2 linked regions of the Homo sapiens genome follow. The protein of the gene in region 1 interacts with the protein of each later gene in a biochemical or structural test. Each region holds a gene or a part of one and is shown on either strand. Other genes may lie near its edges.

What was found. The genes of interacting proteins can lie anywhere in the genome.
Region 2: of the proteins of MAP3K12 (region 1) and MAP2K4, one has a biochemical effect on the other in vitro, tested with the Homo sapiens proteins (one study listed by BioGRID).

The regions. Positions count from the first base shown.
Region 1 is NC_000012.12:53,492,663-53,496,602, forward strand, and holds part of MAP3K12 (mitogen-activated protein kinase kinase kinase 12), read right to left. Parts: intron 2,276-3,940; exon of another isoform or gene 1,037-2,275; intron 409-1,036; exon of another isoform or gene 353-408; intron 1-352.
Region 2 is NC_000017.11:12,019,136-12,022,735, forward strand, and holds the start of MAP2K4 (dual specificity mitogen-activated protein kinase kinase 4), read left to right. Parts: upstream 1-1,741; 5' UTR 1,742-1,751; coding exon 1,752-1,866; intron 1,867-2,187; exon of another isoform or gene 2,188-2,392; intron 2,393-3,600. UniProt on the Homo sapiens protein: Dual specificity protein kinase which acts as an essential component of the MAP kinase signal transduction pathway. Essential component of the stress-activated protein kinase/c-Jun N-terminal kinase (SAP/JNK) signaling pathway.

The DNA.
Region 1 (3,940 bases):
TTACAGACAAACACAGACCAAGCAAAGTGCCAACATATGGGAGAATTTCGTCTGGAGGACCCAAGGGATTTTGCCTGCCCCCCAACCTCCCTCCCCGCCCCCACCACCTCCCACTCCGCCGCAACCCCGGGCTTCGCTTCTGGACCACCCAGAAACAAGGCCCAAGACTCTGGGACGCTCTCGCCTGGCAGGCCAGGAGGGAGGGATGGCGGGATTGGAGCCCTCGGGGAGGAGCCGGGGCCGTGCCCTGGACAGCTTGGTCACCAGCAATGGAAGGACGAAGCCCAAGTCAGGACCGCTGAAAGTGGGGAGGAAGGGGTTACGGCCACAGCGCCCCCTCCCCCTTCCCGACCTCCTTCCCGGCCGTCACGTGGCGCGTGGCTGGGGCGGGGGCCGCGGCGGCGGAAGGGGGTGGTCCGGGTGGGGAAAGGGAAGGGACACGGCCGGCTGGGGGAAGCGCTGGGCGCTGCGGCGTAACCATGACGACTGGGCCTGAGGCGGCGCGTGAAGTCACCAGGACAAGATTAGCCCCGGATCACGTGAGCGCGACGTGGGGGCGGGGCTGTGCCTGGGCCCCGCCCCTGACCTGGGCCGGCCCAGGTGGCTGGTTGCCGGGATGGCTGCGAGGATCTTAGGTGCGGACCCCCACCCAGCGGTCTGCCCCATCTGTGTTCCCTTCCTTCCCCTGCCCCCGCATGCAGAGAGATCTTCGGCTGAGGCGTCTGGTGTTGGCAGGAGGGGACTTGTGGGGTTGGCATTGGGGGTGCAGTACCACAGGGAAGGAAAGCAGGAAATGAGAGAAAGGGAGACAGGGCACAGAAAAGGCGAAAGGTACAGCTAGGAAGGAGGAAGGAGCTGAGACATATACAGACACCGGAGCAGCGTCAAGCGGAGTCAACCCCGAGAAGGATGGCTTGAAAAGCTGTTTGGAAAAGCAGAGGACCCTGAGAAAATGGAGATGAAAGGGGAGTGAGAAACACGGAGAACACCCATCTCCTTTTCTGTCTAGAAGCCGAGCTTTGAGTAGGCACAGCACCTGGCTTTTTAAAGGAATTTTTCAGCCGTCATCTGGTTGTTTGACGACTAGGTGGTTTAGGCATAGAAAGGGTGACATGCTCAGAGACACTTGCAGCCAGCCGAGCCTCCCTCCAGTTCACCAGGCTTCCCCAGAGGCCCTTCTGGTATCCAGGGCCAGCAGCTGGGGAGAGAAGGAGAGAAGCCATTTCACCTGTTTGTCTTTTACGGTAGTGGGGATAGCTGAAGAAGTAGGAGATGGGACCAAGGGAAAGATCTCAGGCTAGTTGACGGCTCTTCCACATTGACCTGGAGTGAGGGAAAGCTGCTGCCCCTGGGAGCTATAGTAAAGTGGAGATTCCTCTCTCCCAACACACACACACATACCCCTTTTTGTTTCCTTTATTTCTGACCTGCCAGCTGTGTCCCACTGCCCCCTGGCTGGGCCTTGGCGCCAGAGCTTTGGAGGGGCGTCTAGGATGGCTAGGAGCCCCTGGCCCAGACGTTCAGTCACCCTGGGGGAGGGTAGCTGTCTCTCCGTTATCAATTATGCAGAGCATGGGGGAAGGGCAGCAATGTGACAGGAGGGTGGGTCTCTCTGTCACTCACTGTCAACCATATCTACCAAGTGTTGATGGTGCTTCTGCCTCACATTGGGTGAGGGGACAGAATGATCTCTAAGCCATACATGTGCCAGGGGAGGAGGCTCTTTGGACACCCAACAGGCCCTAATTCAGTGCTTTGCTGGTGGCCCCAAAGTGACTCCATAAGGAGGCTACAGGGTAGAGTGGGGTAGGAAGTCACCCCCCATCTATCCCACCTTCTAGGTTCTCTGGCCTGAGATTTTGGAAGCCTGTGGCAGGTAAACTCTCTGAATTCTCTCTAGCTCCTTCTTGTATAACAGCAGAATGTCAATGCTAAGCTGTTTGGTGGTCTTAGGGGCTCAGTTCAGAGGCCAGGTCATCTGCCTAAATCTTGGGCTCTCACACTGAGTGCTCTCCACTGTCTGAGACCTCATTTTTTTACTCAGGAAAAGGAGAATGATTCCCTTTCTCTCGTGAGTGGGGGTAGGAAGGGGAGTCTTCAAAGGGAAAGGAGACCCAAGACTTTGGAGTCCTAATTCCACCTCTGCAAGCTTTGAAACCCTGAGAGGATAAAGGTCTCTGATCAATCGTGGCCATGCCTCCTGTCCCCTTGGCTGCAGCTCGTATTGTTTTTGAAACAGGGTCTCGCTTTGTTGCCCAGGCTGGAGTGCAGTGGGATGATCACGGCTCACTGCCTGCAGCCTCAACCTCCTGGGCTCAAGTGATCCTCCCCCTTCAGCCTCCTGAGTAGCTGGGACTACAGGCACTCACCACCACACCAGACTAAATTAAAAAAAGGCCGAGCACAGTGGCTCACGTCTGTAGTCCCAGCACTTTGGGAGGCCCAGGCGGGCGGATCATGAGGTCAGGAGATGGAGACCATCCTGGCTACCATGGGGAAACCCCGTCTCTACTAAAAATACAAAAAATTAGCTGGGCGTGGTGGCGGACGCCTGTAGTCCCAGCTACTCGGGAGGCTGAGGCAGGAGAATGGCGTGAACCCAGGGGGCGGAGCCTGCAGTGAGCCGAGATGGAGCCACTGCACTCCAGCCTAGGCGACAGAGCAATACTCTGTCTCCAAAAAAAAAAAAAAAAAAAAAAAAAAAAGGCCAGGCGCAGTTGCTCACGCCTGTAATCCCAGCAATGGAGACCATCCTGGCTAACATGGTGAAACCCCGTTTCTACCAAAAATACAAAAAATTTGCCAGGCGTAGTGGTGGGCGCACCTGTAGTCCGCCGCCACTGCACTCTAGCCTGGGCAACAGAGCGAGACTCCATCTCAAAAAAAAAAAAAAAAAAAAAAAAAAATTGTAGAGACCATGTCTCATTCTGTTGCCCAGGCTGGTTCCAAACTCCTGGGCTCAAATGATCCACCAGTCTAGGTCTCCCAAAATGCTGGCATTACAGGTGTGAACCACTGTGCCCTGCAGCTTGTTTTTATTTTCCATTTTTCAGGATCCGCAGTCCTGGCCCCAGGATCCCAAGAGGAAAAGAACTATTGCTTTTCTTAGTGCCCTCATGAGGGAGAAATGAGTTCCCCTGAGAACTTGGGGGAAAACTGGAGATCACCCCTAAATTCGGGTCTTTGATTGGTAAATCAAGCCCTGAGACCCCTAGCTGCCACACTTCCAGTGGGGTGGGCAGTGAAGGGGTTCAGGGAAGGGAGGGACAGTACTATTTAGGAAAAAAGAATCAGCTTCAGATTTGGAGAGATCAGAGCTAGAATCCCAGTTTTGCCACCACTTAGTTTAAGGAATGTAATCTCTCTGTGGTGCCCAACCCACCCTGCTGGGGGTAGTGAAGGTTAAGTAGGGTGATAGAGGGGGTGCAGGGAGCAGCATGTTTCCTCCTTGCTTTGTCTTCCTGGTTGGCTGGACACCAGGTCTTTGTGGATCCTGGAGAGGCTGAAGACTTGGTCTCTGACCTTCTGCTTTCCCAGGATAAACTGTGATTTCAGGTTCCAGTAGAACCAGGTCACAGTGCTAGTGATTGTGCTGGAGTCCCCAGTCATTCCTCTACCAGATCACCAGTCCCTCCTCTGTAAATCCTGCCATTCTGTCTCCTCTGGACTAAGGGGGATGGCCTGATTTTCTGCACCCCATCCTCACTCCCTGGCCAGTTGTCTCTGGAATCTGCTCTCTTAAGCAGCTGTACTGCTAAGATCCTCCCTTTGATCACGTGGCCCTGGATCACCCCTCAGCCTTACCCATGGAGGCCTCGGGGAAGGGGAGGGCAAGAGCAGGGTAGGATGGGCCTCAGGAGTCCCTCCTACCTAGGACCTCAGATAGACCAGGAAGAAGTTCAGCGGATGTTAACAAATATAGTTCCTCAACGGGATGGGC
Region 2 (3,600 bases), on another chromosome or scaffold:
GTATTTTTAGTAGAGACAGGGTTTCACCACGTTGGCCAGGCTGGTCACTAACTCCTGACCTCACGTAATCCACCCGCCTTGGCCTCCCAAAGTGCTGGGATTACAGGTGTGAGCCAACATCCCCAGCCTTCTTTAATATATGTTATTTATAATATTGGATGTGTGTGTGTGTGTGTGTGTGTGTGTGTGTGTGTGTGTGTGTTTAAATTAATTTTCTAGTAGTTGCCTAATCTGTAGTGCTGCTTCTAGGATTTCTATTAAAAGAATATATATTAAATTCTTATTAAAGGCCAGTTATGATGGCTCATAATTAAGATGCCCTAGGAGCAACAAGAGCTGGGTGGGCTACTGATTTCCAGATGGGAATCTGGCCATGTTTATAAGACCTGGACTTGAAGATATTGGGCAGCCAACGAGGCCCATGGAGGAGAATTCTGGCGGGCTCTCCACTGAAGTACACCTACCTGCTCTCACCTTCAATTTGCCTTTAATGCCTCTCCACTTGATGTTTACGGCTAGCCACTTTTAGGATCTGAGCCATCAAGATGATGGATGAAATTGGGTTTGGAACAAGAAGGCAGGGCTATTTTGACCCAGGACACATTTCCAACATGCTGTGAAGAACTCTCAGCATCAAATAACATCTGGGTGGAAGAAGTTTTGGGAAAGAAGTCTAGCTGTAGATCACACAATGCTTCTAAATGGGAGAAAATGTCCAGCTCCATGGCTTAGATTCTTTGGGAAGTAGGATAACTGGCTATTCCATTTTAGGCAAGGCTGCCTGGCCAGAAACCCATGTCTTACCATTTCGAGTACATTATGGTTGGCTTACAAATCGTAGCCTCATAGAGAACTTTTTCTTCTTTTAGCTACTGTCTTCCTAAAATAAAAGTCTCTGTGCAAAGCAATGGAAGAAACCTCATATTGTTTTTTGGGGTTGTCATTTTATGTAACTTACAATAATGACTACGGCTCGTCTTATACAAGATGTAAAGGATTTGGGAGAGGGAATCCAGTGTGCATTTAGGGGAAGATGGTGATGTAGATAGCATATTTCAGGAGGCTGGGAAGTGTCGAGTGCTTAAATATATGCTTCTCAAATTTAATGGGCATACAAATTACCTGGTGGTATTATTAAAATGTAACCTCTAATTCAGTAGTTTTGGGATGGGTCCATGGACAGCACTTTGGTTAGTTCCCCTTGGGACTCCCCTTTCCCCTCAGAGAAGTGTAGAGGGTTGGGGTATTGGGCTTAAGAGGAGTTCCAGACTGTAACCATAGCTCTAGGTAACTCCCTTCTGGAAGTGATGTGTTAGCGACTGGAGGAGAAAGGGATCCCTGGGATCCTTTTCAGCTTTACTATTCTGATTTGGGGTTCTGAGATTCCAACAAAGTGGACTTTTGGGAGTCACAGACCTCCATGGGAATGATGAAAGCTGCGTACCTTCTTTCCGCACAAATGCAGGCCCACCTTTAATTCTGCAAACCACTTTAGGCCCCGCGGGCCCGCAGCCCTGGTCCAAGACAGCTGTCTGCTTCACAGGTCGCGCACCCAGAGCCGGGCGGTTCTGCAGCTCAGCATCTGGCCCGGGCTGCGCGTCGGGCTCTGGCGGGGGCGTGTCAGGAGGCGTGTCCGGGGCGTGTCGGAGGCGGGGCCAAGGCGGGGGTAAGCCTCGCCCCTCGGCCGTGCGAGAGGCCGAGCTTGCTGCATTGCAGCCGCCGCGGCGCCGCTCGGCTCTTCACTCCCAACAATGGCGGCTCCGAGCCCGAGCGGCGGCGGCGGCTCCGGGGGCGGCAGCGGCAGCGGCACCCCCGGCCCCGTAGGGTCCCCGGCGCCAGGCCACCCGGCCGTCAGCAGCATGCAGGGTAAGGAACGCGGCCGCGCCGAGATCCCAGCCCCCTAGCGCGGCAACCCGCGTCGTCGCGGCCTGCCCCAGCGGACGCCCCCGGACCCGGCTGAGGAAGCCACGGCAGCCGCCGGCTTCTCCCTCTCTCCCTCCCCGGCTTCCCGCCCCGCTCCCGGCCGCCTCCGGCCCGGCTTGGATCCGGGCTCCGGCCCGCATAGGCCCCGGCCGCGGCCTCTGCCTGCGCTTGGCCCCTGGGCCCTACCGGGCTCTCAGCAGGCCCGCAGGGCCCACCTGGTCCGGGACCGCCCCCGCGGCCGTCCCCATCGCCCCCGCCGCTTACCTGGCGCCCGCCCGGCCCCCGTTTCCGGGAACGCGCCGGCTCGGGGCTGCGGCGGAGCGGGAGGGGCGTCGGGCCTGCCCCCTGGTCCCTGACGCCGCTCAGGTAGGCGGCGAAGACAGCGGCCCCGGCCGGCGCCCCTCGGCCCCGCCGCCGCAGTGGGCCCCGCTCAGGGCCATCTTGGCTGTCGCCGGGCACAGCTGGAGCCGGACCACCGAGCTGACCTCGGGCTACGGGGGCCTCTTGGAACCTGCGTTTTCAAACTTTTGCAGGGTTTCTGTGCGCTGGAAGGGATGGGGGTGGGGGGCGGGTTGCCCAGGCCTGTGCCACCTGTAAGGTAGGTAGGCTGCATTGGCCTGGGAGAGGCATTTTGTTCCAGGCCAGGGATTTCTGTGTTAGCATTGCGTGCAGGAAGAAAAAAAAAAAAAAAAAAAAAGAAGACTTAATTTGGTTTAAATGGAGAGATACAGGAAATAGACAGGGGTCAAAGTGATACTGTAGTGTCTGGACATTTGAGGCAGCTCTGCTAATTAATGACTTTCCCCACTGGGAATGCTTATTAGCTGTGTATGGCTTTTGACAGGGGGTGTTGTGAAAATACCAGGCCAGGCCCGAGCCTGTTAGGGACCATTTCCTTAAATTTACTGGGGAATTTTGAGTAGTAATGCTATTTTTAAAACAGGGAATCTCAGAACTCTCTTGACAACTTTAGCAAACTGCTTGTGTTGAATTATTAACAGAATAAGGGTTGGGGTACCCTTGGTAGTCAGTGTGACCATGGTTACTTTTTGATTCCATTCCTCTTAAAGGGCTTCTAGCATTTAGTTAGGTTCAACAGACATTTATTGAATAGTTCATGTTTATAGAGCATGCCATAATTCAGAAAGAAGAGACAGGATTTTATTTATCTTTACATCCCTGTCACCCTCCCCATGAAATAATTTTAATATACATAAAAACCAGTGATAGATATATAGACAGGATGATGTCAGAGCTTAGAGGACACTTTCTGTGCAGGCCCTCAGATAATTCATTCAAATTGAATTAGTTATTGGATGCCCACTGTGTTGCACAGCACATTATACTGATGAAGTATAAGATTGACTTCCTGACTGTACAGCTTTACAATTTAGGTGGTGGTGGTTGGGGCGAAATGAAATGGCAAAATGACAATTTAGGATTGTATTTCTTGTTCCAGATGGGTGACTTACAAAGCTTATAAAAACAAGGTGATTTGTTTGTTTGTTTTATTGGTGGGGAGGCTGACAGTTTGAAATAGCTGGATACAGTGTGTTTTTTTGGTTCAAAAAATATTTATTGAGCATCTGCATAAAACGCTCATGCTGAGTTTATAGAGAATTGAACATCTCTAACTGTCCTCATGGAGGTTATCCCCCTGTGAAGATGGGGGAGGGA